Homo sapiens: one gene and its partners. The protein of the gene in region 1 interacts with the protein of each later gene in a biochemical or structural test. Each region holds a gene or a part of one and is shown in the gene's direction. Other genes may lie near its edges.

The links.
Region 2: of the proteins of LIMK1 (region 1) and MBP, one has a biochemical effect on the other in vitro, tested with the Homo sapiens proteins (one study listed by BioGRID).
Region 3: the proteins of LIMK1 (region 1) and RASSF6 interact in a test that uses a peptide from one of them, tested with the Homo sapiens proteins (one large-scale study listed by IntAct).
Region 4: the proteins of LIMK1 (region 1) and ARRB1 form a complex in vitro, tested with the Homo sapiens proteins (one study listed by BioGRID).

The regions. Positions count from the first base shown.
Region 1 is NC_000007.14:74,116,626-74,124,134, forward strand, and holds the end of LIMK1 (LIM domain kinase 1), read left to right. Parts: intron 1-3,957; coding exon 3,958-4,013; intron 4,014-4,266; coding exon 4,267-4,424; intron 4,425-4,513; coding exon 4,514-4,676; 3' UTR 4,677-5,900; downstream 5,901-7,509. UniProt on the Homo sapiens protein: Serine/threonine-protein kinase that plays an essential role in the regulation of actin filament dynamics. Acts downstream of several Rho family GTPase signal transduction pathways.
Region 2 is NC_000018.10:77,124,407-77,131,915, reverse strand, and holds part of MBP (Golli-MBP), read left to right. Parts: exon of another isoform or gene 1-3,556; intron 3,557-4,267; exon of another isoform or gene 4,268-7,509. UniProt on the Homo sapiens protein: The classic group of MBP isoforms (isoform 4-isoform 14) are with PLP the most abundant protein components of the myelin membrane in the CNS. They have a role in both its formation and stabilization.
Region 3 is NC_000004.12:73,611,633-73,619,141, reverse strand, and holds part of RASSF6 (ras association domain-containing protein 6), read left to right. Parts: intron 1-3,205; coding exon of another isoform or gene 3,206-3,251; intron 3,252-5,898; exon of another isoform or gene 5,899-6,012; intron 6,013-7,312; coding exon of another isoform or gene 7,313-7,346; coding exon 7,347-7,411; intron 7,412-7,465; exon of another isoform or gene 7,466-7,509.
Region 4 is NC_000011.10:75,270,226-75,277,734, reverse strand, and holds part of ARRB1 (beta-arrestin-1), read left to right. Parts: intron 1-286; coding exon 287-371; intron 372-823; coding exon 824-896; intron 897-3,523; coding exon 3,524-3,661; intron 3,662-4,756; coding exon 4,757-4,840; intron 4,841-6,010; coding exon 6,011-6,034; intron 6,035-7,509. UniProt on the Homo sapiens protein: Functions in regulating agonist-mediated G-protein coupled receptor (GPCR) signaling by mediating both receptor desensitization and resensitization processes.

The DNA.
Region 1 (7,509 bases):
GCTGGCTGCAAAGCATCTTCTCTTCTCTGATCTCTGCATCCATCCCCGCATCTCTTTCCCTGGCTCTAACCTTCCTCCTTTTTTTTTTCTTTTTTAAAGAGGGTCTCGCTCTGTTACTCAGGCTGGAGTGCAGTGGTGCCACCATAGCTCACTGCAGCCTCAACCTTCTGGGCTCAAACTGTCATCCCACCCCAGCCTCCTGAATAGCTGGGACCACAGGCATGCAACACCACACCCAGCTAATTTTTTTATTTTTTATTTTTTATTTTTTTTTGAGACAGAGTCTCGCTGTGTCTCCCAGGCTAGAGTGCAGTGGCGTGATCTCAGCTCACTGCAAGCTCCGCCTCCTGGGTTCACGCCATTCTCCTGCCTCAGCCTCCCGAGTAGCTGGGACTACAGGCGCCCGCCAACACGCCTGGCTAATTTTTTGTATTTTTAGTAGAAACGGGGTTTCACCGTGTTAGCCAAGATGGTGTCGATCTCCTGACCTCGTGATCCGCCCGTCTCGGCCTCCCAAAGTGCTGGGATTACAGGCGTGAGCCACCGCGCCTGGCCAATTTTTTAAATTTTTAATAGAGACGGGGGTATCACTATGTTGCCCAGGCTGGTCTCAAACTCCTGGCTTCAGGCGATCCTCCTGCCTTGACCTTTCAAAGTGCTGGGATTCCAGGCATGAGCCACCATGGCCCTCCATCCTTCTGATAGGGACCCTTACGGTGACATTGGGCCCACCTGGATAATCCAAAAGCAGCCCTCCATCTCAAGACCCTCAACTTAATCCCATCTGCAGAGTCCGATGGAAGGTGGGACGTATACAAGTCCCAGGGATCAGGACGCAGTCATCTTTGGGGATCATAGTTCTGCCTCCCACAGGGTCTGCTTCCCTCAGTCCATTTCTTTGCTGTCAATGGTCCTATATATGCCCAGATTATAGGTTATAAAGTCCTTCTACAAGCAGGTGACACATGAACACAGGTTCAGGGCAGGCAGACCCCAGCCATCACCTCATCATAGTTAACCTAGTTAAATTAGCCTGGCATGTGGCGTGGTGCCTAATGCCTGTGGTCCCAGCTACTCAGGAAGCCAAAGCGGGAGATTTACTTGAGCCAAGGAGATCAAGGCTGCAGTGAGCTATGATCATACCACTGCCTTCTAGCCTGGGCAACGGAGTGAGACCCTGTCTCAAGAAAACAAAAAATAGGCCAGGCACAGTGGCTCACACCTGTAATTCCAGCACTTTGGGAGGCTGAAGCAGGCGGATTGCTTGAGGCCAGGAGTTCGAGACCAGCCTGGCCAACATGGTGAAACGCTGTCTCTACTGAAAATACAAAAATTACCCGGGTGTGGTGGCACAGCTACTAGGGAGGCTGAGGCAGGAGAATCACTTGAACCCAGGAGCAGAGGTTACATTGGGCCAAGATTGCACCACTGCACTCCAGCCTGGGCAACAGAGGAAGACTGTGTCTCAAAAAGAAAAAAAAAAAAACCTTCCTGTAATCCCAGCACTTTGGGAGGCTGAGGTGGGCGGATCACGAGGTCAAGAGATTGAGACCATCCTGGTCAACATGATGAAACCCCATCTCTACTAAAAATACAAAAAAATTAGCTGGGCGTGGTTGCACGCGTCTGTAGTCCCAGCTACCCGGGAGGCTGAGGCAGGAGAATGATGTGAACCCAGGAGGCGGAGCTTGCAGTGAGCCGAGATCGCACCACTGTACTCCAGCCTGACGACAGAGTGGGACTCTGTGTCAAACACACACACACACACACACACACACACACACACACACACACACACACAGAGTTAACATAGCCCGCAAAGAAGACTATAAAACAGTCTTAGTGGCCGGGCGCAGTGGTTCACGCTTGTAATCCCAGCACTTTGGGAGGCCGAGGCAGGTGGATCATGAGGTCAGGAGTTTGAGACCAGCCTGGCCAACACAGTGAAACCCCATCTCTACTAAAAATACAAAAATTAGCTGGACATGGTTTCGGGCGCCCGTAATCCCAGCTACTCAGGAGGCTGAGGCAGGAGAGTTGCTTGAACCCAGGAGGCAGAGGCAGGAGAGTTGCTTGAACCCAGGAGGCAGAGGTTGCAGTGGGCGACAGAGCAAGACTCTGTCTCAAAAAACAAAAAAGTCTTAGTGTTTCCTATGTTTAGGGATTAGTGTGAGGATTAAAGGTTGTAAACTCATTTCCACCTAGTTGGCATTCAGTAAATGAGAATTGACATTTAGTACTAATTGTTTCGGGTATTTTGTTTTTTGTTTTTTGTTTTTTGTTTTTTCTGAGACCGAGTCTTGCTCTGTCATCCAGGCTAGAATGCATGGTGCGATCTCGGCTCACTGCAAGCTCCGCCTCCCGGGTTCACACCATTCTCCTGCCTCAGCCTCCCACGTAGCTGGGACTACAGGCGCCCGCCACCACGCCTGGCTAATTTTTTGTATTTTTAGTAGAGACGGGGTTTCACCATGATCTCGATCTCCTGACCTCGTGATCCACCCGCCTCAGCCTCCCAAAGTGCTGGGATTACAGGTGTGAGCCACCGTGCCCGGCCAGTTTTTTGTTTTTGAGATGGAGTCTTGCATTGTCACCCAGGCTGGAGTACAGTGGCGTGATCTCGGCTCACTGCAACCTCCACCTCCTGGGTTCAAGTGATTCTCCTGCCTCAGTTTCCCTAGTAGCTGGGATTACAGGCACCTGCCACCATGCCTGGCTAATTTTTCTATTTTTAGTAGAGATGGGGTTTCACCATGTTGGCCAGGCTGATCTTGAACTCCTGACCTCAGGTGATCCACCCGCCTCGGCCTCCCAAAGTGCTGGGATTACAGGTGTGAACCACTGTGCCCGGCCATGTACCGATTATTTTTAACATCATTAAGTAGCTGGTATCATTCCCATTTTACAATAAGGAAACTGAGGCTCAGAGAGTCTGTGTCAGTTTCCTGAGGTTGCTGTAATAAATTGTTAGAAACTTGATTATTTAAAACAGCAGAAAATGGTCAGGCACAGTGGCTCACACCTGTAATCCCAGCACTTTGGGAGGCCGAGGCGGGCAGATCACTGGAGGTCAGGAGTTCGAGACCAGCCTGGCCAACATGGTGAAACACCATCTCTACTAAAAGTACAAAAATTAGCTGGGCATGGTGGCAGGCGCCTGTAATCCCAGCTACTCGGGAAATTGAGGCAGGAGAATCGCTTGAACCCAGGAGGCAGAGGTTGCAGTGAGCCACAATCGTACCACTGCACTCTTGCCTGGACAACAAAGCAAGACTCCATCTCAAGATAAAATAAACAGCAGAAATTTATTCCCTCTTAGTTTTGGAAGCCAGAAGGTTGAAATCCAACAGGGCTGCGCTCCCTCCAGGGCGATCTAGGGGAGAATGCATTCCTTGCCTCTTCCACCTTCTGGTTGTTTTGCATTCCTGGGCTTGTGGCCGCATCACTCCAGTCTCCACCCCTGTCTTCACAGGGCCACCTCCTCCTCTTCTGCTGTGTCTTCTCTGTGTCTCTCTCAAGAGGGCATTTGCAGTGGCATTTGGGGCCCACCCAGATCATCCAGCATCATCTCATCTCCAGATCCTTAACTTAATCCCATCTGCAAAAGACCCTTTTTCTGACCCAGTAACATTCACAGATTCCAGAGACCTGACATGGTTCCCTTTTGGGACCAGCACAGAGTTCATGACTTGTGCAAAGTCACGCAGCTGATCGGTGCCTCGAACTCCTTGTCCAGGGCTCTGCCCCTTGCTCCTCAGAGCTCCCAAAGGCTTGCTCAGACCTGGTGGGGTTGGGGGAAAGAGCCTAAGCCTGGGTTCCCATAGAGGTTGCCGGCATCTGCCTCCTGGGCCTGGACCTCCCGGCCGGGGCATCCTCCCAGCTGGCCTGGTCCCCTGCCTTTTGGCATCCCTGGCACCCCCATGTGTTCATCTGCTGACAGTCGGTCTCTTTATCCAGGCCGCAGCTATGATGAGAAGGTGGATGTGTTCTCCTTTGGGATCGTCCTGTGCGAGGTAGGTCCAGGGTTGGGTAGCAGCGGTGTTGAGGCCTGGGCTCCTCCCCACTCACCCAGGCTGCAGGCTCAGCATCTGCAGGGGCCTCATGCCAGGAAGCCTGCCCACAGCAAGGCATGGGCTGGCCCCCATGGGGTACTGCAGTCAGGCTGCAGCCAGGCCCAGTGCCACCTGCCCTCAAACCACCTGGATGGCACCCAGATGCCCAGGCTGAGGGCCCCCTGGAGTAACTGCCGGGCCTTGTACTGGACAGATCATCGGGCGGGTGAACGCAGACCCTGACTACCTGCCCCGCACCATGGACTTTGGCCTCAACGTGCGAGGATTCCTGGACCGCTACTGCCCCCCAAACTGCCCCCCGAGCTTCTTCCCCATCACCGTGCGCTGTTGCGATCTGGACCCCGAGAAGAGGTGAGTGGGGTGGGGCCCTGGCCTGGGAGACGGTGGGGCCGATTCCCGGGACAGCCAGACCCACCGTTCCCCACCCACCTGTCACCCAGGCCATCCTTTGTGAAGCTGGAACACTGGCTGGAGACCCTCCGCATGCACCTGGCCGGCCACCTGCCACTGGGCCCACAGCTGGAGCAGCTGGACAGAGGTTTCTGGGAGACCTACCGGCGCGGCGAGAGCGGACTGCCTGCCCACCCTGAGGTCCCCGACTGAGCCAGGGCCACTCAGCTGCCCCTGTCCCCACCTCTGGAGAATCCACCCCCACCAGATTCCTCCGCGGGAGGTGGCCCTCAGCTGGGACAGTGGGGACCCAGGCTTCTCCTCAGAGCCAGGCCCTGACTTGCCTTCTCCCACCCCGTGGACCGCTTCCCCTGCCTTCTCTCTGCCGTGGCCCAGAGCCGGCCCAGCTGCACACACACACCATGCTCTCGCCCTGCTGTAACCTCTGTCTTGGCAGGGCTGTCCCCTCTTGCTTCTCCTTGCATGAGCTGGAGGGCCTGTGTGAGTTACGCCCCTTTCCACACGCCGCTGCCCCAGCAACCCTGTTCACGCTCCACCTGTCTGGTCCATAGCTCCCTGGAGGCTGGGCCAGGAGGCAGCCTCCGAACCATGCCCCATATAACGCTTGGGTGCGTGGGAGGGCGCACATCAGGGCAGAGGCCAAGTTCCAGGTGTCTGTGTTCCCAGGAACCAAATGGGGAGTCTGGGGCCCGTTTTCCCCCCAGGGGGTGTCTAGGTAGCAACAGGTATCGAGGACTCTCCAAACCCCCAAAGCAGAGAGAGGGCTGATCCCATGGGGCGGAGGTCCCCAGTGGCTGAGCAAACAGCCCCTTCTCTCGCTTTGGGTCTTTTTTTTGTTTCTTTCTTAAAGCCACTTTAGTGAGAAGCAGGTACCAAGCCTCAGGGTGAAGGGGGTCCCTTGAGGGAGCGTGGAGCTGCGGTGCCCTGGCCGGCGATGGGGAGGAGCCGGCTCCGGCAGTGAGAGGATAGGCACAGTGGACCGGGCAGGTGTCCACCAGCAGCTCAGCCCCTGCAGTCATCTCAGAGCCCCTTCCCGGGCCTCTCCCCCAAGGCTCCCTGCCCCTCCTCATGCCCCTCTGTCCTCTGCGTTTTTTCTGTGTAATCTATTTTTTAAGAAGAGTTTGTATTATTTTTTCATACGGCTGCAGCAGCAGCTGCCAGGGGCTTGGGATTTTATTTTTGTGGCGGGCGGGGGTGGGAGGGCCATTTTGTCACTTTGCCTCAGTTGAGCATCTAGGAAGTATTAAAACTGTGAAGCTTTCTCAGTGCACTTTGAACCTGGAAAACAATCCCAACAGGCCCGTGGGACCATGACTTAGGGAGGTGGGACCCACCCACCCCCATCCAGGAACCGTGACGTCCAAGGAACCAAACCCAGACGCAGAACAATAAAATAAATTCCGTACTCCCCACCCAGGTCCTGCGTGGCGATGTGTGTCTGGGGCCCTGGGGAAATAGTCAAGGTAAGAGGAGTTAGTCTTCCCTGACCAGAAGACAAGGATGAGTGTGGTGGCTCATGCCTGTGATCCCAGCACTCTGGGAGGCTGAGACAGGACGATCCCTTAAGCCCAGGAGTTCAAGACCAGTCTGGACAACATAGTGAGATCCTGTCTCTACAAAAATTTTTTTTTAATTAGTTGGGCAGAGGCCAGGTGTGGTGGCTCATGCCTGTAATCCCAGCACTTTGGGAGGCAGAGGCGGGTGGATCACCTGAAGTTAGGAGTTCAAGACCAGTCTGGCCAACATGGTGAAAACTCGTCTCTACTAAAAATACAAAAATTAGCCGGGCGTGGTGGCACATGCCTGTAGTCCTAGCTACTTGGGAGACTGAGGCAGGAGAATCGCTTGAACCCGAAAGGCAGAGGTTGCAGTGAGCCGAGGTGGTGCCATTCCACTCCAGCCTGGGAAAGAGCGAGACTTTGTCTCCAAAAAAAAAAAAAAAAAAAATTGGCAGGCCAGGCACAGTGGCTCACACCTGTAATCCCAGCCCTCTGGGAGGCCGAGGCAGGAGGATCTCCTGAGGTCAGGAGTTTGAGAACAGCCTGACTGACATAGTGAAACCCCATCTCTACTAACAATACAAAATTAGCCAGGTGTGATGGCACATGCCTGAAATCCCAGCTACTTGGGGGGTTGAGGCAGGAGAATTGCTTGAACCCAGGAGGCAGAGGTTGCAGTGAGCCGAGATTGCACCATTGCACCCCAGCCTGGGCAACAAGAGCGAAACTCCATCTCAAAAAAAAAAAAAAAAATTAGTTGGGCATGGTGGCATGCACCTATAGTCCCAGCTACTCAGGAGGCTGAGGTGGGAGGATCCTTTGAGCCCAAGAGATCAAGGCTGCAGTGAGCCATGTTTGCACCACTGCACTCCAGCCTGGGCAACAAAACAAGACTCTGTCTCAAAAAAAAAAAAAAAAAAAAAAAGGCAGGGATGGAGGGGGGAAGAGAACACAGCCCAGTTTTAGGTGGAGCTGAGGTGGTGGCCCAGCCAGGACAAGTGAAGAGTCTTCAGAGGCTGGGTTTGGAGGGCCGTGCATATTCCGGAGGTACTGCTTTCATACTTAAATGTTTTCTTGTAAAACTCACACCTGTAATCCCAGCACTTTGGGAGGCCAAGGTGGGCGGATCATCTGAGGTCGGGGGTTCAAGACCAACCTGACCAACATGGAGAAACCCCGTCTACTAAAAATACAAAAAATTAGCCAGGTGTGGTGACACATGCCTGTAATCCCAGCTACTCGGGAGGCTGAGGTAGGAGAATTGCTTGAACCTGGGAGGCGGAAGTTGTGGTGAGCTGAGATCGTGCCATTACACTTCAGCCTGGGCAACAAGAGCAAAACTCCATCTCAAACAAAACTAAACTAAACTAAACTAAAGGGTTCTATCGAGAAGATGGGCTGCACGTGATGGCTCACACCTAGACTCCCAGCGCTTCAGGAGGCCGAGGTGGAAGGATCACTTGAGGCCAGGAGTTCAAGATCTGCCTGGGCAACATAGCAAGACCCTGTTTTTACCCAAAAAATAA
Region 2 (7,509 bases), on another chromosome or scaffold:
TGTCTCGGGCTCTTCGGCCGGGCCCGTCGCTGCGCCCACCTGGGCCCACGTGCGCCGCCCGCAGCCGCCCGCCGGCCCGCCCGGGTCTTCCCGGCAGTCCCCTCCTGGGCCCCACTGCCTGTCCTGGGCCGGGTGCGTCCGTTTTCCGTGGCCCCCGAGGCCGGGGTGTGTGACCTGCGGTCATTTGCCGCCACACTAGATTTTCCGGGGTGCTGGGGGCAGCGCCTTGTGTCCTTTCGCGTCCACCTGAGCCCCCCCGTTTTGGAAGGTGGAGTGGGGCTTGGGAAAAGGTTCAAGCGTCTTTGGGGACCCCCGTGCGACTCTGGCTGGAAACAGGCGAGCTCTGGTTCCTTGTTCCGTTTTCCAATTGCAACAACGTGAGAATCAACAAGTGCTCGGTTTCTCTGCGCGTGGGTGAGGGGCGCGTGGGCTCGCTGGGTGCTGGGGTGGGGAGGGGGCGTGGACTTCGTTCCGGGGAGGCCTCTGCCTCGTCTGACCACAGAACGCCCCGCCTGGAAAGAGAGTTTTTCAGAGGAAGGAAACGTCAGGGAACTCCAGTGTGTGTTTTGGACATTTTATCTGGCGAAGCTCCGGGGGACAGTTTAAGGACGGTCACCCTCAAGTCAGGGGACCGTATGGATTGAGCAGGTCCCGCACTGAGCTCCCTGGCGGCCACCTCCAGTGATGAGCACCTCCTTAGCGGTTGGGGCCGGGGCTGTGGTCACGGCTGAGAGCCTGGAACCCAGCCGCCCTTCAGTGGAGGAAGGCCAGGGGAAGGGTACCGCGGCAGAGGGGGTGTGTGTGTGTGTGTGTGTGTGTGTGTGTGTGTGCGCGTGCGTGCGCGCGTGTGTGTGTTTTGTTTTTTGAGGTTTTGTTTTTTTTTTTTTTTTGTGGGAAAAACAGAAATCTGAGGGAAAAGAACACAGTTAAAAATTGCTGTAAATGCTGGAGTAACTCCCAGGGAGTTAACTGTTCTGAAACAACCACTTCTACTAACTCCGGGTTAAACAAAGCTATTTTGTTCAAATCCTCTTTGAAAATCCTCCAGAAGTATCACAGTTCTGCCCAAAGATAAGAAAGTGTAAGACACGTCGCTTGTTTTACACCTGGTAGCTCATGGCTCCTCCATGATTTAAAACGTCGGGTTTGAGTTTGGTCAGTGGTGGTCCTAGCTGTGTGCGCTGATTAAAGGTAGCCACGAAACGCTGGGGAAAAAAGAAAAAAAAAAAACAAGAGACCAAACTTTCTTGTGATGTTTCTATTTCTGCCTGAATTTGTAAATGTTAATTGTAAGTTATTTTGTTTGACTTTTAATCCTCCTCCAAGTTCTTTAAAAATATGACATGCTTAAGATGAGCAGCTGCCTCTGTGCCTTTTCTGTCGCCTGGGAGTGTTTATCGACTGCTTGCACGTTGCCAGACTCTCTTTTGAGAGCGGTTTGTCACCTCGGATAACAGTCGGGACGGCCCTAGGATGCCCTCACTGGATGTCACCATCCTATTCATATCTTCATTTTTTACTGTTGAGGAAACAAGGCCCAGAGAGGTTAAGTTACTCTAAGGGCACACAAGAAGAGGCGGGATTCCATCCGGGGAGTCTGCACCAGCGCCTGACTGCTGCTCTGCACCGCCGTGGTGAGAAGGATGCCTTGCAAAGGTGCTCCTCGTTCCTCCTTTTAAAATTCCACCCCAATGATGAGTGAGTGTACCCAGAGATGTCCCACACAGGTTTCCTTTCAAGAATGATTTCACCATAAGGCTACTGTCATCCGTCTTTGTTCATCATCTTCTCCTTAGCTTTCTTAGTTGTCAATAAAAAAGAAAAGAAAATATTCTAATTACTCCTTTTCTTTTTCTTTTTTTTTTTTTTGACAGAGTCTTGCTCTGTCACCCAGGCTGGAGTGCAGTGGTGCAATCTCGGCTCACTGCAACCTCCACCTTCTGGATCCAAAACAGTCTCCTGCCTCAGCCTCCCCAGTAGCTGGGACTATAGGGGCGCACCACCACACCTGGCTGATTTTTGCGTTTTTTTGTTTGTTTTTGTTTTTTAGTAAAGATGGGGCCTCACCATGTTGGCCAGGCTGGTCTCAAACTCCTGACCTCAAGTGATCCACCCACCTCGGCCTCCCAAAGTGCTGGGATTACAGGCATGAGCCACCGCGCCTGGCCTCTAATTACTCTTGGGATAATTTTAAATAAGTGGCCATTAAGTAGTAAGACACTTCTGTTGGCCCATTGGAACCCGTGAAGGAAGCTCTGGAGCTGTTTAAGGGAAGAGTGCTCATGCCACAGGCCCTAATGCCAGCTGAGCAGAAATGCCAGGCGAGTAGCTGGAATAGTCTCTACAGGAGATTTTAAATCTCTGTCAAAACCTGTAGTGGACAGGCTTCATCCAGAGAAACAGAAGCAGGTGGAGATACACATTAGAGACTCATGGCAAGGAATGGCTTATGCAGAGGTGGGCTGGCCAGGTTTGTGGGACGTCTGTAGGACAGGCCAGCCAGAAGGCAGCTGATCTCCCCGGCCGACTGAAGCTGCCTTCCACAGCAACATCTCCCACATGCCAGCAACAACCACGAGTGCATGTTCCAAAGCTATTAGTAATGTCTCACACTCAATAGCCATTAAAGCGTAAAAATGTCATTCCGAATGTTCTTTTGTTCTGGACTCTGTGAATAGCACTGCGTTGGTCTGAGTCACCATTGTGAAAAATAGGTGGATATCTAAAAGATGAGGAGAAACAGACCTATGTGAGGCCAGGATCTAGAATACAGAAACAGTTCTAAAATGTGGTAATTTGAAACAAGCCACTCAAGAGTAAAATATGAGACTAATGAGAAAACCCAGATGGACTGATAAAATAAGAAAAGGACTTTAACCCTCTGGGAATCAGGGAATTCAAAACTAAGATGGCAAAAAGATTTTTTTTTACCTTTACGGTACTGGAAAAAAATTTAAATTGTGACTATACCAAATATTAGAGAAGGTGTAGAAAACTTAGACCTCACATGAGTTCGACTAGAATGTAAATAGGAACAAAGATGTTAGAGAATAATCTAGAAAAAGTGAAGGTGGGTGTATCCTAAGATCTAACAATTCCACTTCTAGGTATCTCCTCTAGGGAAAACCTGGTCTGTGTGCATAAGACACACACAGTGGATATTCACTGAAGCAATGTAGTAAAACCCTGTTTTGAGATCATGTAGATTCACATGCAATTCCCTTCACCAGTTTCTCCCAACAATAACATCTTACAAAACCATAGTACAATGCCACAACTAGAAAATGAGCATTGATACAACCCATTAACTTTGTTCAGATTTCAGATTCCACCAGTTTACATGTACTCATTTTATAGACTGCTCTGTGTGTGTGTGTGTGTGTGTGTGTGTGTGGTATGCACGTGCGCTTAGTTCTCTGTAATTTTATCACCCATGTAGAACCATGTGACCACCAACACATCAGAGGACAGGAGAGTTTCATCACAGGATCCTTGATGCTACTCTTTATAGCCAAGCTGACTTCCTCCTTCCCCCTCCCTGAGGCTGGCAACCACAGTATGGTTCCTATTTTCTATAATTTTGTCGCTTTAAGAATGCTCTATAAATGGAATCATACACTATGCAACCTTTCGAGACTGGCTTTTTCCGCTAAACGCAATTCCCTTGAGACCCATCCGGGTTGGCAAGCATGTCCATAGGTGTTTCTTTTTAATTACTTAGTGGTGTTCCGTCATCTGGATGAACCAAGGTGTGTTCAACCGTTCACCCAGGAAGGGCACTTGGATTATTTCCAGGTTTTGGTTATTGCAAATAGAGCTGCTGTGAACATTCTTGTACAGGTTTTTGTGTGAACATAGTTTTCATTTCTCTGGGATAAATGCCCAGGAGTGCAATTGCTGAGTCATATGGTTAGCACATGTCTAATTTTATGAGAAACTGCTAACTCTTTTCCAGAATGGCTACACCATTTTGCATTCCCACCGGCGGTGTGTGAGTGATTCAGGACCTTCCCAGCCTGGGCAGCATTTGGTATTGCCACTATTTTTTTTTTTTATTATTTTAGCTCTTCTAATAAGTGTGTAGTGATATCTCCTGATGGTTTAATTTGCATTGTCCTGATGGCTAATGACATCAAGACCTTTTTATGTACTTATGGCCATCTGTGTATCCTCCTCAGTGAAAAGTCTGTTCATGTCTTTTGCCTACTTTTTAATTGGATTGTTTGGTTTTAACAACTGAGTTTTCCTAATTCTTTATATTTTCTAGATGCTGGCCTTACCACTCGGTGATTATTTTCTACCACTTTATCTTGTTTTTTCACCCTCTTCACAGAGTCCTTTGCAGAAAGTTTTACATTTTGTTGAATTCAAGTTTATTAATTTTACCTTTTTTGGATTTTGATTTTTGGTGTGAAGTCTAAGTCTTCACCTAGCCTGAGGTTCCCGAAGATTTTCTCCTTTTTTCCCTACAAATTTTATAGTTTCACATTTTATACTTAAGCCTATTTTCCATTTTGAGTTAATTTTTGTATGAGGTGTGAGGTTTAGGTTGAGGCTTATTTGTTTTGGTTTGGTTTGGGTTTTGCCAACGAATGTCCAATAGCTCCGGGACTATTAGTTGAAAAGGTGATCCTTCTTCCATTAAATTGCTTTTGCACCTTTGCTAAAAACCGTTTCCACTTATTGCTGTGGGTCTATTTCTGGGTTCTCTATTCTGTTCCATTAGTCTATATGTCAGTCTCTCTGCCAAGAGCACACTGTCTTGATTACTGTAGTTGCATAGTCAACTTTAATCAGGTGGAGTGACTTCCTTCCACTTTATTATTCTTTATAAAACTTATGTTAGCTATTGTAGGTTCTGGGCCTTTCCATATGAATTTTAGAATAGCGCGTTTATGGGTGCAAAAACCTTGCTGGGATTTTGATAGGAATTTCTTCAAATGTATAGATTAGGGAGAATTAATAGTTCTACTGTGTTGAGTTTTCCAATCCATGATCACAGGTTGTCTCTCTATGGGTAATTAGGTCTTCTTTAACTTCTTTCATCAATGTTTTATAAATTTCAGTGCACAGATTCTGAATCTGAAATTTCTTTACAGTGTACATAAGTGTTTTATTTTCTTTGGGGCATTTCTAAATGGCATTGTGTCTTAACTTCAGTTTCCACGTTTATTGTGGAGTAGGTAGAACTGTGAGTAATTTTTATGTGTCAGTCCACATTCTGCAACCTACTGAGCTGCCTTATTAGATCTAGGAGGATTTTTTTTGGTAGATTTCTTGGGATTGTCTATGTAGATCATCATGTTATCTGCAAATTGGATAGTTTTATTTCTTCTTTCCAATTTATATACTTTTTATTTCTTTTTCTTATCTTACCGTACTGGTTAGAATGTCCAGTGCTATATTCAATAAGAGTTGCAAGAACTTGCCTTATTCTGACCTAAAGGGCAAAGCACTGAGTTTTTACCACCAATTATGATGTAGCTATAGGATTTTTATGGATGTTCTTTATCAAGTCAATAGTCCATGTCTATTCATGAATGTGTGTTGTATTTTGTCAAATGTCTTTTCTGGGACAATTTATATGTTCATGAGATTTTTCTTCTTTGACTTCATGGTATGATGGATAGTTGATTGACTGACTCTCTAATGCTGACCCACCCTTGAGTATCTGATATATATTCCACTTAGCCATGTATATAACTTTTTTATGTGTTGCTAGATTCACTTTACTAATATTTTGTTGAGGACTTTTGCCTCTAAGTGTTTGTGAGATATTGATCTATAGTTCTCATTTTTTGTATAGTCTTTGCTAGTTTCAGTATCAGGATAACTGGCCTCATAAAATGAGTTAGAAAGTGTTCCCACTTGTTCTAACTTTTGGAAGAGATTGTATAAAATTGCCATAAATTTCTCCTTAACTGTTTTAGTAGAAATTTCCGGTGAAACCATGTGGGCCTGGGGATTTCTTTCTTGGGTATTTCCTTCCTTCTACTTTGTTTGTATATATTTAGCTCTTTTTTTTTTGGTTTCTTGAATTAGATCTTAGATTATTGATTTGAGACTTTTCCTGCTTTCTAATATAAGTATTTCAGGGTATGAATTCCCTCTCAGCACTACTGAACTAGGTGTACATATTTTATCGAGTAAAAGTTTTGATACAAAAAAAAAGGAGGGAAACACACTAATTCCCCATGAGTAGGGCTATAGATTTACGCTATGATTTACTTACAACAGTTAAACTACCCAGACTTTGTGTATCAACATGGACAAAATTCTAAATAACAGTGTTGAATGGAAACCAGCAAACTGCAAATGAATATATATAGTATTATTCTATTTCTTTAAAATTTTCAAATCCACAAAAGAACATGTGGTCATGATTACGTGGGATTATATGACATATAGAAGCCAGGTAATGTTATCTTCTAATCTCGGGGAGGGGAGGGAATTGGCTGTCTCTGCATGGTTTTATTTCTTAAAAATATTTTGAGATTTTATACAAATAACAGAATGTGTTACTTTTTTTGATGAAAAGGATAAGCCAGTTGTCTTGTAGATTATTATCTGTGCTTTTTAATATGTTCGAACTAATTAGTAATTTATATTAGCAATAAATAAACCAATGTAAAGTTTGGGGGGAAATGACACCAGCGATAATGAAGTGTTAGAGAGGAAGATTAGAAGGCCCCACAAAGGAATCTGAAAGCAGGTGTGGAGGTGAAATTACTGAAATTTGGTAAGAGCATGACAATGACAAGGAAGGCGAAGGAGAGGAAGAAGAAAGGGCAGGAGAGACAGTCTCCCTCCTCTTCGTTGTCATTTGTTCAAGTAATATAAGTGCAGAAAGGAAGGATAAAGAAATTGATCTAAAAAGAGAAGCGTGCAGAAACGGGCAGGAGCCGGGACCTCAGAGGAGTGGGCTGGATTCAGCACAGGCCTGGGGATTAACTAGGTGTTTGCAACCTCACTCTTGAGCCCATGACTTGAGGAAGAACCATGAGAATCTAGCTAAATCTGAAAAGATTTAAGGAACAAAATTTGTATGGGGATCCAGCCCTTTTTCCTTCTTGGCTGCCAGGATTTATAATGAGCTGGGCCTCTAAGAGCAGTCTAGCATGATTCAGACAGAGGCCAGCAAACCAGGGCCCCACTTCCTGTCACTCTGCAGGCGACCTGGCTCAGAAACTCTGGAGGTAAAGTGTGGCTGCCCGCTCAACAGCCTCAGGAAGTCCCCAAAGCCCTATCTCCTATCTCCTGTGGGTGGGCTCTCCCCCACTGGCCCCGAGGGAGACTTTGCTCCTTTCCTCTCCCATCCCCTCCGAACTCACCTGAGACAGGCACCCAGGCCAGTGCGGCCCCAGCTGCCCCGCGTCCAACCCCCACTTCCGGGGGTGCAGCTGGGGAAGGAGGTGCAGGCAGCGACCACAGCAGCTACTGAGCCCCAAGAAAGGAGGCCAGCACGGGGTGGGGGGTGGGAGGCGTGGTGGCCAGAAGAGTTATTCTAGC
Region 3 (7,509 bases), on another chromosome or scaffold:
GAGACTGCTTTTGAATAACTTTCATCAATTTAGACCATATAATCCATGTCTTTATATTTCAGCACATATTGAATTGTTTGTATTGAAGTGCTGTTTTTAATTTGTGTTGATGGACAAGAGACATGAAGGAATAATACTTGTATTTTGTCAGTCTCTACCTCTTAAGCTTAAATTACAGGAAAGTGGCTTTATTTTATGAAGTTTCACTTAAAGGGCACTTTTGTCAATGTTGTTAGTTATTAATGTTGCTAATTTTCTTGAGGGGACCAACTTAGTGTCTATGACTAGTAATTTCCATTGACTTCATTTTTATCTTGTTATTTTATTAAATAAAGCAGTCAAAGAGTTTGCAGTATACTCTAACTTAATATCATTGGTGTTTTAATGGATTCTTTTTTCAAATTGCAGAGTTGAAATTCTTCAGTGTGCTTACAATTAGATATTGACTGGAGAATTGTGGATAGAATTCTAAACCCAACCTAACTGAAGTTTACTATGTTATTTCCCTCTGGGGTCTGATTGTGTTTAGTACAGTTTAGCTAAAAACTTATAAAGGAATCAAATTGAATTAGAATAAGTTAGGGTTCCAATATTCATTAAAGATTTTTCAAAGAGGAAATATGCTTTTATGCTGAATTTCCATATTGTTATACATCCTTAAACAAAGTTATTTGCCTTTATATTTATTGATAGACATATGTCTAAATAAAGAATAGTAGCCCCAATTGAGATAAATTTATTTAACCATATTTGAAATTGATTTGAGATTAATCTACTTAACCGTAACTGGGTGGAAGTCTTTCTAGTTAAAATCTGTTTAGATAGATAGATAGATAGATAACAACTTTATATCTATACATTAGAATATTGTGTTGAATTTACATTTATTCTACTATTTCTCACGTGTATAACATTTTATTATAAACTATTAAATGTTGTGGTCAATCAGAGAGAGAGAGAAAGAGAGAAAAGAGTGACACAGAGAGACCCAGCAATGATTACGAAAAAATTAACTTTTCCAGTTATATTCAAAATAGTGTAACATGTATGTAACAAGTCTTTTAAGCATGTAATTAAAAGTTCTATACCTGATTCTTGTTTTAATTTCCTAAAATAAGAAGGATCCTTTACTTTTAACTGAGATAGAAACCCAATGCTGACAGTCCATTTGCTTATATAGATTCATTGATTGCAATGTAGGTGGGGAATTCACGGTTACTAGAGTTACATGGGCTTCATATAAAAGCTTAGATTTTTAAAATATTCAAGTATAGGCCATTTGAAAACAAAACCTCTGAGAAAGGAATTCTGAATATTTTCCTTTCACATTACAGTTAGAGAGTTATTCTGTTGCAAAAATTAATTTGTATGTTTAAAATGATAAATTATAGTGATTTCATCACTTTCATAACATAATCTCAACAACCAAACTTAACTAATACCACTGCTTTCAGGAGTAGAACATGAAGTGTCTCCTATTTAAGTAATAAGGATGTTAACTTAAAGGAAAACTTCATCATCACCTAGAGCCTAGTAAAGGAGCTTAAGAGGAGAGAGTGTCGATTCTTTTGCAGCAAATATACAAACAGGAAAAATGAGTCGTGATCTTTGTGACGTCAGCCTAAGAATTTCTACTGGGAAGCTCAGGTGAAGCAGAAAATTTTTGAGTTCCACCACACCAGTAATTCCAGAAGATGCTGTCGGCAGACTGAGCAGCGCCTCCCAGACCCAGTGGTGGCAAGATGCCTTAAGTGCCTTAATACAAATTTGCTTCTCTGACCGTTTCTGCTTTCTTTATCTCCCTGAGGGCACCTTGAGCAGAATAAAATGCATGGCATTAGTACCATGTAAATATGCAATAGAACAGTAAAGTTTTGGCATTTCCAATTAGATTCCACTTGAACTGAGGGCAGTGGCATGCTCACATAGAAGTGTGTTTGATTCATATTCTGCTTAGTCCTCTCTTAGATTCAATGATTATAATACATTATTTCTATCTCAAAACCAACAATCACTGACTGCAACCAATATTACTTAATTAAGTGATAGTTTGTATATATGCCAACTCTTGACCTTTACTGTCTCTGCAAATAAAGCACATTTTAAGAAAAAGTATGGAGCCAAATGTTTCCCAGAAACCATCACTCTGTTAACTCTTTTCCTTTTTTGAGAGAACTAGATACTGGATGGAATTATAGATGCTTTGTCTCATTTTCTTGAAGTGATGTAATTGCATATAACTCTGCTCTTCTCTACTCCAAGGTTCCAGGTCATAACTTTGAGAAAACAGTTTCGTTTTGGAGATGAATACATAATTGTAACTTTCTATTGCTTCTTCAAGCTGAAACAATATTTTATTAAAAAGACTCTCCGTGTGTACAGCCCTTAACATACTCTTATCTCATAATTGAAATACACACTTGCTATTCTAGTGTGATACTTTCTGTTCTTTTTTTAAGTAGCTTTTACTGGGGACGTGGGTGAGAGAGATGTAACATATATTCCTTGTCTATGATTTAGACAGTACATACAAAATAAAAAAAGAAATAATTATCACACATAATCTCTTAGCTCTTAATTTTACCATTAATATTATAATATACCTCTCTGTATGTTGGATGTATTCAATATTTTGTGTATGTTTTATCTATATGCCTGCATATATTCACTCACTTTAGAAGACACAAAAATGAAATAGCAATAATTCTGTCCTAAAGGACCTAGTAATCAAATTAAGTAAAATAAAATATGGTTAGAGAGAGAAAGCAGTAAGTAATTAGAAAGCTACAGAAAATTTCCTGTGAAATTTCAGAAGCAAGAGAAATTGTCTTTGGCTGGGAAATACAGGGAAGTTAGCACCTGTATATATATGTATAGATAGATAGATAGATAGATAGATAGATAGATAGATAGATAGATATAGATATATGTATATATATTAGTTCTTTGTAAAATCATTAGCATTATGACACTTTGTGCACCTTGTGGCCTCAGAAATAAGAGGCTATAGATATAGATACAGGCTATACTTTCTGTGCCTAGCACGGTAGCAGGTGCAGAGAAGGAACTCGTGAAATATTTGTTGAATTTACAAACGAGTGAACCCAATTTTCCACTTTTAGATATGTAACCATTTAATTAACTCATGGTTGGATAACAGGAAGTTACTTTAAATGACTGACCCATTTGATTTAATTTGTACTAGAATTCACTTCCTGTCCTCTGGCCTCATTCTGGTCACAAGGCAACTGGTAAGTCCAGGCAAGCCCACCTCTAGGCAGGAATGCAGAGCAGGGGGAGGTGAACCACGTTCCAGCATTGCTGGAACGCTAATGCTGCCCAACACTGCCTCCTCAGGCTCCATCCAGATCTCATTGGCTTGTTCAGACCAATTCTACCTCTCCTATACTTCTAGTGCTGTTGATTTCTCCAGGACTTAATTGCTGACCTATCTAATTCCCTGTTTCTCCAGCTTCATTGTTTCTGGACAAAATGAAAAAGTAAATAACCAAACTTATTAAATAATGATCTTATTTTACACACAATCTAAGTCAATAATCTCTGGCCCCAGGGCCTACATAGATTTGTAACAACCATCTTCCTCCTCAAGTTGTAGTTTATTATGTTCTACCAAAATTACTGAACATCCCAAGTAAGACCTCCAGGCTTCTAGAACTGTAATTTTTTCTTTCTTCATAAATTCTCTCCCTCGTTGCTATTCATGACTTCTCTGTTATTCTCCTCTTAAGTCCTTGAGAAAATTTGCTCAGATGCTTATATCTACCAAGTCTTTATAATTTAGGAGATTTTCACAAGGGCCCTAGCAGGTTTTAGTTTGCTATGAATCATGGTGAATGGGAATGGGAAGATGAGGATGAAAAACTATTTGAATTCATAGATCTATGCCTCACTTCATTGTTTTTGTTTGTTTATTTGTTTTGCTCTTTTTTTTTTTTTTTTTTTGAGACAGAGTCACACTCTATCACCCAGGCTGGAGTGCAGGGACACAATCTTGGCTCACTGCAACCTCCATCTCCCAGGTTTAAGTGATTCTCGGGCCTCAGCCTCCCAGGTAGCTGGGATTAAAAGTGTGTTCCACCACACCCGGCTAACTTTTGTATTTCACTTCACTGTTAATACTAACAATGGGACTTTTACCAAAGCATGTTCTTACCTTTCAGGTATTTAAACTGTTTGAATATTTTATTTACCCAATTTTTAGATCAGACATGAATAATATTATTTCCTACTCAAATATTATGTGCTGCCTATGAATGAAAATTTTATCCTGTTTTTATTTTCTTACATTAAATTATATTCAACTTTCTTCCTTCCTAAAGTCAGAAAATAATATAAGAGCCTTGGAAACCCTTTCATCACATCTTCTGAAGTCTTCTGAAGCTGGCTATGAGTTACCTCAGCATAGATCAACAGTGTGTCACTATAACTACATTGCAATTATTTGCCCTCTTTAATGATATCTTTGATATTTCTTATGAATGCAAATAAAGAGTGAGCCAGTTGGAAAGCTACTGCAATGATTTTTCAGTCCATCACTGCCAATTTTCACTTTGTAATTATAAGAAGCTGCTATCAGTGGTTCTTCAGTTCCAAATATCCCCAGTGTCTGGTGAGGGAAGCAAGCTGTCTGGTTCTTAGATGGTCTTTTTGCTATGCTCTGACATGGTGGAAGGGTCCAGGCAGCTTCTGGGGTCTCTTTTATAAGGGCACTAACCACATTCATGAAGTCTCCACCATCATGAACTAATCACCTCCTAAAGTCCTCACCTGTTAATACTATTGCATTGGGGGTTAAGTTTCAACATCTAGGTTTTGTGGGGACACAAACATTCAGACCACAACAGAGGGAGGCCCTCTAGTAGGCTGACGCAATAATCCAGGAAAAAGATGATGGTGGCTTGGCTTAGGGTAGTAGCAGTGGAAATCAAAGCTTTCGAATTTGGAATATGTTAGTGGTACAGTGAATAGGACTTACTTTTGGATTGAATTTGGCTTATGATGAAAGAGGGAAAAAATGAGACTAAATATTAGTTTTGATGCCTAGATGGGAAAGAATTGTGGAGGAGGAAATTTTAGAGCATGGGAGAAAGTCAGTGGTTCTTTTTCAGCCATGTAGATATCGAGATGCCTGGTACACATCTAAGTAGAGATTAGGTAGGTGGTGACATGCGTCTGGAGCTCAACAGAGATTATGGGATGGAGACAGATTCGATTACCTGGAAGAATGTATAGATAGAGAAGAAAGGATGGCTGAGAATGGACACTCAAACAAGCCAGTATTTAGTGATCATACAAAGGAGGAATCAGCAAAGGAGACTAGTGTTGAGGCCTGTGAGATAGCAGGAAAATAGAGTGAGGTGATTGTTATTCATGGTTTGTCTCAAAAGCATCAAGAAGAAAGTGTTTTAAAAGGTAGGAAAATCAATCTTGTCAAATGTTGCTAAGAGGCCGAGAAATGAGGAGAGAAGTGAACTCTTTGGCAAGGTATAGGCTCTTGGAACATGGATGGAGAGGTGGAGGTAGGGCTAAATTAAAGGAATATATGATAAATAATCTGGACCCAGGAGGAAGAAGGAAGTGTTTGGACCCCAGGGTCATCACTGGGGGATTTCAGTCGGGGACATTAATAACCCTTTTGGTGGGTTATTAGAATGACAAAATCCAGGGGCAAAACTCAAGTTTGAGAAGCTGGAGGAACCTGTGTAACCTGTATAACCAAGTTGCCCAGACCAAATCCTGTGAATAAGTAACTGGGATTCACTGGGCTCATGGAGCATGTTGTGTCTGTGTGCCCAAGGCAGCATAAAATGCCCATGTGGCTTCTGACGTATAGAATTACTTTGCCTGGTGACTAAGCTTCTGTGTCTCTGGTATGAGTCCTCCAGGTGTCCTGCATGAGACCTGCCAATGATGTGCTATCAGAGGATGCCATTTCCAACTAGAGAAGCACAATTCTTTGAGCAAGAAGATAGCAATAGAAAAGAAAGTAAGGTATAAATCAATAATGACAATACAAGGTAGAAAGCAGAATGATGACAACAGTGTGGATTCAAAGGACATGGGGAGACTTTAAGATTTCCCACTGGGGACTAAAAGGGACCAGATATCTGGACCTGCAGTGAGGAGGGCCCTCTGCTGCCAGGGGAAATGGGTGAGAAAAGACTCAATGACATGAAATTTCATTAGATTACAAGGCCTGGTGTTGAAGAAATGTTTCAATTTGGAGCCTGGAAAGGTAGGTTTGAGTGGAATTGAAGAAAACTTGAGAGTCAGGTTAAGGGACTTGGGCTGTATTTATTAAGAAAGATACCAAGATGGTTTGTGACCAAATAGGTGATGGGATGATCGGAATGATAAAAGCCTAAAATGAGACTCCAGCCAAGCATTCACCCTGAAAACTGTAACAAAGTACCTAGTGAGTTTAACAACATGCTATAAAGAAAAATATGCATCAGAGATTTTATGAGAATAGAAGAATAGCTTTCCTGTTTTCTTTTTTTCCTGGTACTCTGAAGAGTTAGGACATATAATTTCCTAATTTTTATTCATCTTACCCAACCCAAATAACCAGATTTGAAAGGAAAAGGAGGAAATCCACCCCCTTATACACAACGTTTTTTTTTTTAAAAAAAAAAAAAAAAGAAAACTGAACTCTCTCATCCATCTTTTTTATTCTGGCTCTATCCCCTAAAATCTTATAGACTTGGAGCCATGATAACTGAATATTCAATTTTTGCAAAATGGAATGAACAGAAAATATTATACTTTACATCTCTGGTCACACCCTAATGCCATTTATATGAACATATAAAGGAGGAGATTATTCACATCTGACCACAGTTTCCAGAGCTTGAAGGAGACTTGAAAAATATTACATCATACCTAATCAACTCTTCAAGTCAGAGCTTGATTTTAGCTGCCTAGAATTGCAGTTGTCTTCTGCTGATTGGGGCAAGGTTCAGCCAGTTTGGGTGAGTTATTGCAATAGAAGGAATATGCTCCCTTATACAGAATTATATAAATCAATAGAGTCATATTTATTTTGCTAGAAATATATCTAAAACAGACTTACCAAATTGTTCAATCCATCCGTGTCTGGAGTTACTGTTTCTGTAGTTTTTCATTTACATAATACATTTTTCTGTATTTTTGCTCACACATGACATACTACTTAAAAACTTTCTAAAACCTTCTTATACTCTAGAGACACAACAAAACACTCAACTTAAATCAGAAACTAATTTTTTAATGCATTATAGGAACAAATCATTAATATTATTCTCATGTTTAGGATATCCTCAGACCATCTCAAAAAGGAGGAAAAGATGACTATGATGGCTCACCAGTACCCCTCTTGGATCTTCATTAATGAGAAGACATTCATAACCAGGTAACCACACACCTTATATTATACATTGTCCTACTCACCAGTCATTTGTGGAATATACCGTCAAAGTTTTCTAAGCATGATGTATGGTCAACAAGATC
Region 4 (7,509 bases), on another chromosome or scaffold:
GTGGCTTTCATGCCACCTTAGCAGCAGTGGGAAGTGGCTGATGAACTTGGGGCAAATGTCACAATGCCTTGGGGGATTCGGAGAAGCCTCTTGGGCCTAAAGGAGTGGCAGAGGGGGCATGAACCTGAGGGATGTGATGGACTTCAGATGGGAGCAGCAGACCCTTCTGAAGGTCTGCGCAAGGTCTGGGGAACCCCAGAAGATCGCGTGGGGGCTTTTCTCCCTCCCCTTTCCCTAGAACCTTGCTGTCCTCCCAGCCAACCCCGTCCCTTCTTATGCCCCCCAGATCTATTACCATGGAGAACCCATCAGCGTCAACGTCCACGTCACCAACAACACCAACAAGACGGTGAAGAAGATCAAGATCTCAGGTATCCCAGACAGAGGGTCAGCTTAGGGGACAGCGAGAGGCAATCTTCCCAAGGGCTGGGGGTGGCTGAAGTATCTCCCCTTGTTAACAGCCTTGTATAAAAAATAGCCACTGAAGCCCAGGGCCTGCTCTGAGCCACAGGGCAAAGCTTTTGAGTTGGGTAAGGCAGGCTGCTTATTGGCTAGGTAATGAGTTTGCTCTTTAAGCCACCTCTTCAGTTTCTTGGGTTCTGGACAAAGCTGTCCTTGAGGGGAAGGCTTTGGTTATGGAAGGAAATGGGTGTGTTTGGGGCTACCCTTTGGATGTAAGACAGGGGTGGTCTTATGCAGAAGTCCCCACTGGTGGCCTCTGGCCATTGCCTGGGGCTGAATATCCCCAACCCGGGGACGCCTGTGAGACTCCATGGGAGCTACATTCCCGACTCACTCCACCTTGATTCCTCTCCCTCCCTAGTGCGCCAGTATGCAGACATCTGCCTTTTCAACACAGCTCAGTACAAGTGCCCTGTTGCCATGGAAGAGGCTGAGTAAGTGGGCACAAGTCTGGCCTTGGGCGTATGGGATTGGGTGGGAAAAAGAGAAGCTCTAGGTGTCCTGTTACAGGTCCAGGTGGCTCTTCTCCACCTGGCAGAGGGCTGGGCCTCAGACTTCCTTGCCACTCAGAGTAGATGATCCCGAAGAGCCTTTTAGAAACCATCCACCTGATTTAGCTTCAAGAAAATGCATGCTACAGTCAAGGAAGAGACCCACTAAAACTAGAGTGACAAAACAATAGCTAATGAATGTAAGGGGATTGGGGTTGTGAGAAGAAATAATTACGTTGTACAAGAAACCTAGGTTGAAGGGAAATACTTTGTTCTTGGCTTCCTGGTAGCCAGGGCAAAGTGGGTAAGGCACTAGGTACACAGCTCTTGTCTGATAAAGGGGTAATCCAACTCATTGGGAAAAAGGGGTTGTGTGTGGGAGTGCAGAGAATAATTACACACAAAAAAATCATCTAGGTTTGAGGAGAACTGCTATGGTTGAGCATGGATCGAACTTTGTCCCAGGCTTGTTGGCAGCTAAGGCAAGTGGAGAGATCTGAAGTGAAACATCTTTACTTACCTAAAGGAAGTAAATGCTCCCATTCAAAGACATACACATTTTTTTTTCCTGGCCCTGCAAGTAATTTCTTGGGGCAATTATACCTGATATAATTTTACATGTATATGTGTATTTGTTTATGTATAATTCCAATCAGTATTTCTTGCAACTGAAAATATTTTTAAAATGTTACTACATGGCCTTTGAAATAGTTTTTAATGTCCTATAGGTGAACATGCTATGATTAGATCAAGCTTTCTCTGGTTACTGGATATTTTTCATATCCACTGTTGATTTTTTCAAAAAAATCAGAGCTATGAGGCATAGATTCCTGATGGTAAAGTGAAGTGATCTAGAACCAGAGTAACATATAATCCCTAAAGAGTAGAAAATCCCAACCACTGCAGATGGTGCCAGCGTCTGCATAACGAATACCAGCAGGGATGGCTGGGGAGGCATTTGCACTCACAGACTTGTTTACTTCTCAGGAAGCGCTGTGGGGCTGGGGTTGCTGCTGCCCCAGTATGTAGAGGAGGAAGTGGCTCAGAGAGATGTGACTTGCAAGTTAGCAAGCAGCAAAGCTGGGGCTGGAACACGGTCGTCCGACTCCAAGGCTTGTTCACTATCTGCTGCATGACAGCTCTCTCATTGGAAAGGATGGGGGATAGAGCAAAAGCAAGTAAAAATTGGACAATCAAAACACCCTATATATGATGGATGTGATCAAGCAAGTAAAGTTTTAATTGTTGAGCCTAGATGGTGGGTATATGGGTGCCCAAATAGCTTCATTTATGGTTTATGTGTAGCTATAATTTTTTCTTTTTAAAATGTGTTTAGAGACAGGGCTGGTGCTCACGCCTATAATCCCAGCACTTGGGGAGGCTGAGGCAGGCAGATCACTTGAGGTCAGGAGTTTGAGACCATCCTGGCCAACATGGCAAAACCTCATCTCTACTAAAAATACAAAAATTAGTCGGGCATGGTGGCGCGCCCCTGTGATCCCAGCTACTTGGGAGGCTGAGGTAGGAGAACTGCTTCAACCTGGGAGGTGGAGGTTCCAGTGAGCCAGGATCGCACTACTGTACTCTAGCCTGGGCGACAGAGCAAGACTCTGTCTCAAAAAAATAAAATAAAATAAAATAAAATAAAATAAAATAAATTTAAATTAAATTTGTTTAGAGACAGAGTTTCACTCTGTTGCCCAGGCTGGAGTGCAGTGGTATGATCATGGCTCACTACAGCCAGCCTCGAACTCCTGGGCTCAAGTGATCCTCCTGCCTCAGCCTCCCAAGTAGCTAGGACTACAGGTGTGCACCACCATATCAGGCTAATGTTTAAAATTTTTTGTAGCGATGGGGTCTTGCTATGTTGCCCAGGCTGGTCTCAAACTCCTAGCCTCAAGCAATCCTCCTGTCAGCCTCTCAAGTTGCTGGGATTACAGGCATGAGCAACTGTGCCTGCTGTGGCTGTACTTTTTTTTTTTTTTTTTTTGAGATGGAGTCTTGCTCTGTCACCCAGGCTGGAGTGCAGTGGAGCAATCTCGGCTCACTGTAAGCTCCACCTCCCAGGTTCATGCCATTCTCCTGGCTCAGCCTCCTGAGTAGCTGGAACTACAGGCGTCCACCACCATGCCCGGCTAATTTTTTTGTATTTTTAGTAGAGACGGGGTTTCACCTTGTTAGCCAGGATGGTCTCCAACTCCTGACCTCGTGATCTACCCGCCTCGGCCTCCCAAAATGCTGGGATTACAGGCGTGAGCCACTGCACCCGGCTGGCTGTAATTCTTTAAATAAATGTGCTTTTTAGCACTGTGCTGCTTGACTAGGATAATCTTTTAGAATATCCGAGATTCAGTCCTGTTTGTGCGTAGAATGTAGATGTGCCTCTTTTGAGTGGCAGTGGTCTCCTTGCCCGAGCTGGGCTGGCCCAAGTGGTCCGTGTGTCTGGGGGACAGAGGTTGGGAGAGGGAGACTTGGAGCAGGCTCAGACTAGATATTCTGCTGGGCTGGAGATCAGGGCTGGGGTTGGCTCTGGGGAGGGCCATCTCCACAGCTGCTTCCTTTCTTCCCAGTGACACTGTGGCACCCAGCTCGACGTTCTGCAAGGTCTACACACTGACCCCCTTCCTAGCCAATAACCGAGAGAAGCGGGGCCTCGCCTTGGACGGGAAGCTCAAGCACGAAGACACGAACTTGGCCTCTAGCACCCTGTGAGGACCTGCCCTCCTAGCCCTGGGCTCCTAGTGCATCTTGCCTGATGGGGCCACACCCTCCTTGGTCCCCCCAGTTCAAAGACAAGGCTCAGGCTACCCTCTCCATAGCCTTGTCAGGGCCTGTCCTCAGGTGCTTGACTTGTCAGGGAAGCTGCCTCCTTACTCCCAACCCTACCCAGGGGTGACTGAGAGAATAAGATGGACCACTAGGCCAGCTCACTCAGGCAGTGCTGGGCTCTGCTACCATGCCTGGGGGAGGGCAACCTGGGAAGGCTTCCTGCAAGAGGTGGCAGCTTCTGACGTAATGCCTTCAGTCAGATGGGGTGTCCCTGAGGAGAGACCAGGGTGGTGAGCTGGGTTAGACCCAACATGGGGTGCCCCTCCAAGTCAGGGGTCCCAGGGCATCTGGTCACTCCTGCTGCACAGTCATCGTGGACGCCTCTAGGCTACTCTGCTCCAGCAGAGCCCTGGCTATGGGGATGCCATCTTGCCCTCTTGCCAGTGTGGTCCTTCAGTGGGGCTTTGGCCTACGTCTAGAGCAGCCGCCACTCCCAGCACAGACTCAGCTCTCTTCAGCAGCCCCTGCACAGCCTCCCACTTACCTGAAGCTTTTTGCCCTGTCTCCACCCTGGCTCACACCCTACCCATCTTCAAGACCCAGCTGAAGCACCACCTCTGCGGAGAAGTCCTTCTCTGATGGCCCCCACCCCACCCCACCCCAGCTGCCTCGCCCTCTGTGAACTCCCCGTGTGGCCCTTTCTGCCCATGGGTTGCTGAGAGAAGCAGAATCCATCTGAGGGGAGGAGGAGCCTGGCCCTCATGGCGGGGACGCTGGCCTGGGCAGGGAGAGGGGCTCAGCAGGGCCACACAGTGAGCGAGTCTCACAGTCAGACTTGGAACCGGGGCTCTGGGTCCCTGCTACCTAAGGGCACTGCTCGCCTTCCTCATCTCCACTGGGCTCTATTGGACATGGTAGCTGAGTGGCTAGCCAGATGGGGGATGGACGGCCACTGCCCCCCAGCATACCCACCCCTGAGGTGTCTCGCCCACCTGGCAAGGCCCCTGAACTGGCTCCCCTGTGTCACTTTGCAGGTTGAGGGAAGGTGCCAACCGTGAGATCCTGGGGATCATTGTTTCCTACAAAGTGAAAGTGAAGCTGGTGGTGTCTCGGGGCGGGTGAGTGCTCCAGCCAAGCCCAAGACCCCGGAGTGCAGAGGGGAGCGTCCCAGGTGCCCACAGGCCCCTGCCCCATTCTGCCTGTTTGCAGCCCTTTTAGCTGCATCCACCTTGGAGGAGGAACCTCCTGTCCCTTCTTTTCCTCCCTTCTGTTCCTCTTTCTCCCCCGCCCGCTTTCCCTCTCTTCCTTCCTTGGCCCTCAGCCCCTCTCTTACCCCCACCCATCTCTTTCTCTCTCTCCTCCTCCTCTATCCTAGGTCTGGGCTCGCACTGAGGATTGGCCATGCCCAGGGGACGGCGTCCTCAGAGTCTTTGCTGTGGGGTCCCCAGGGGTGCCATCTCCTTATCACACTTTGGGCATAGCACCCACCCCCATGCATGCCCAAGCTGATTTTCTGAGGAAACAGCTAAAAGGGCTCAGAACCCAGAGCTGGATTGGGGATTTGCTAGTCAGCTTTCCCATTTTACAGATGGTGAAACAGAGGCCCAGACAGTGCCCCAAACATTGCCTGAAATCTCCTCTCCTAACTCAGGTCATAGTGGTGGACCAGACTGCCCTGCCCTGGAGCATAGTTTGGTGGAAGCTCAGGGAGAAAAACAAACAAACAAACTACTGTGTTTCTTTTTTGTAACTTAATTCATAAATTTCTATGAAAAGATTGAAAAGCTAAATCCCATTAGACATTGGGTCTCCTTGATTATTAGAAGAATGCCTCTTGGCAGGTGGCAGTATGTAATCCTGACCTTATATAATAGGACATCTCAAAATTACAAATCCCAAATCCTGTGTCTGGTGACCTTTCAGGACCCACAGTCCCTCAAACATTCTTGGCAACCCCGGAGTCCTTCCCTCTGCCTTTAGATAGTCCGGCCTCCCTTGGGACAGGCAGCACTGGGGTTAATTTTTACACTGCCTTGACAGATGAGGATCCTGGGGCTCAGGGGTTTGCTGAGCTGGGTCTGGATCCCAGTCCCTCGGGGCAGGGCTAATGCCATTTCGGTGTATCCCTGAAAGAGCAGTCAGGGCTGTGCAGGGGGGTGGGTGGGAGTGTGTCCCGTGGGTCTTCTCTATCCGGGGGACAGCAGAAGTGGTGAATGAATGTGCTTTTTGTTTTCTTCCTCTCTGAACTCTCTCCTGACCACTTCTCCTGCCTCCTCTGACCCACCCAGCCTGTTGGGAGATCTTGCATCCAGGTAAATTCCTCCCTTCCACCTGGTTCACCCACCTTCCTGGAGGGCCTGGAGCCCATTGGCTTGACTGACCAGAATCACAGGGCACTGGGTTGGAAGGAATCTTAGTGGTCATTTCAGATAGCCAGGTTCAGGTGTGAGCTGGGAGACACAATTTCTCCTTAACAAACCTCACCTTGCTCTTCCATCCCACCTGAGTGACAGGGATCTTTACAGAGAGCAAAGCCTGATTACACTGATACAGGGAGTGGCCCCCAAGAGAGCTGTCTGAATTACTGATCACCTGAATTATAGGAGCTTTTGGAGAAATGCAGACTTCATGGCTTTCAAACTTCTACACTAGTGAGGAGGGAACTGCTGGCCAAGTGTTGCTAAGGAGAGGTCCTCAGGAGATCCTATTTTGTAAACAAGGTCTCCTTGCAGCCAGCTGGATGCACTTATATTCCAAAAATGCATGTACCCCAAACACAGCAGTTTGGCCTCCTTCTGTCACAAGATGGCAGTGTGGCTCATCCTAAGAAATCTTAAACTAATTTGACAGGTGAAATTCATTCAATTCAATTCAGTTCCATATCATTCAGCAAAGATTTCCTCAACCCAGGCTTGCGTCCAGGCTGGTGCTGAGTGCCAGAGTCCCAGAGAGGAATCAGATGTGGTCCCTGACCTTATCGTTCCTGGCCCGGTAGAAGGTTAAGATCCAGATTCTTCCACTAAAATGTTGGCAAACCCAGTCTTCCACCAGCTCCATTCTGAAGCAATCCCCAAAGCAAAAGGAAAAAAAAAAGAGAAGGAAAAAAAGGCCAAATAGCTCTGACAGCCTTATAAAACCCCCAGGTTCCCAATGAGGGGACTTAAGTAACGATTCTGGCAGGCACAAGCTTCACATTTTTATTTTTATTTTTTATTCTGAGACAAGGTCTGATTCTATTGCCCAGACTGGAGTGCAGTGGCACAAACTTGGTTCACTGTAACCTTCTCTGCCTCCTGGGTGGAAGCCATCCTCCCAACTCAGCCTCCTGAGTAGCTGGGACTACAGGTGTGCTCTACTATGCCCAGCTAATTTTTTTTTTTTTTTTTGAGACAGAATCTCACTCTGTCGGGTAGGCTGGAGTGCAGTGGCACGATCTTGGCTCACTGCAACCTCTGCCTCCCAGGTTCAAGCAGTTCTCTGCCTCAGCCTCCCAAGTAGCTGGGATTATAGGCACCCGCCACCACACCCGGCTAATTTTTGTATTTTTAGTAGAGGCAGGATTTCACTATCTTGGCCAGGCTGGTCTTAAACTCCTGACCTCATGATCCACCCGCCTCGGCCTCCCAAAGTGCTGGGATTACAGGCGTGAGCCACCGCGCCCAGCCTAATTTTTGTATTTTTAGTAGAGATGGGTGGTGGTGGCAGTGTCTCACCAGGTTGCCCAGGCTGGTCTCGAACTCCTGAGCTCAAGGGATCTGCCCGCCTTGGCCTCCCAAAGTGCTAGGAT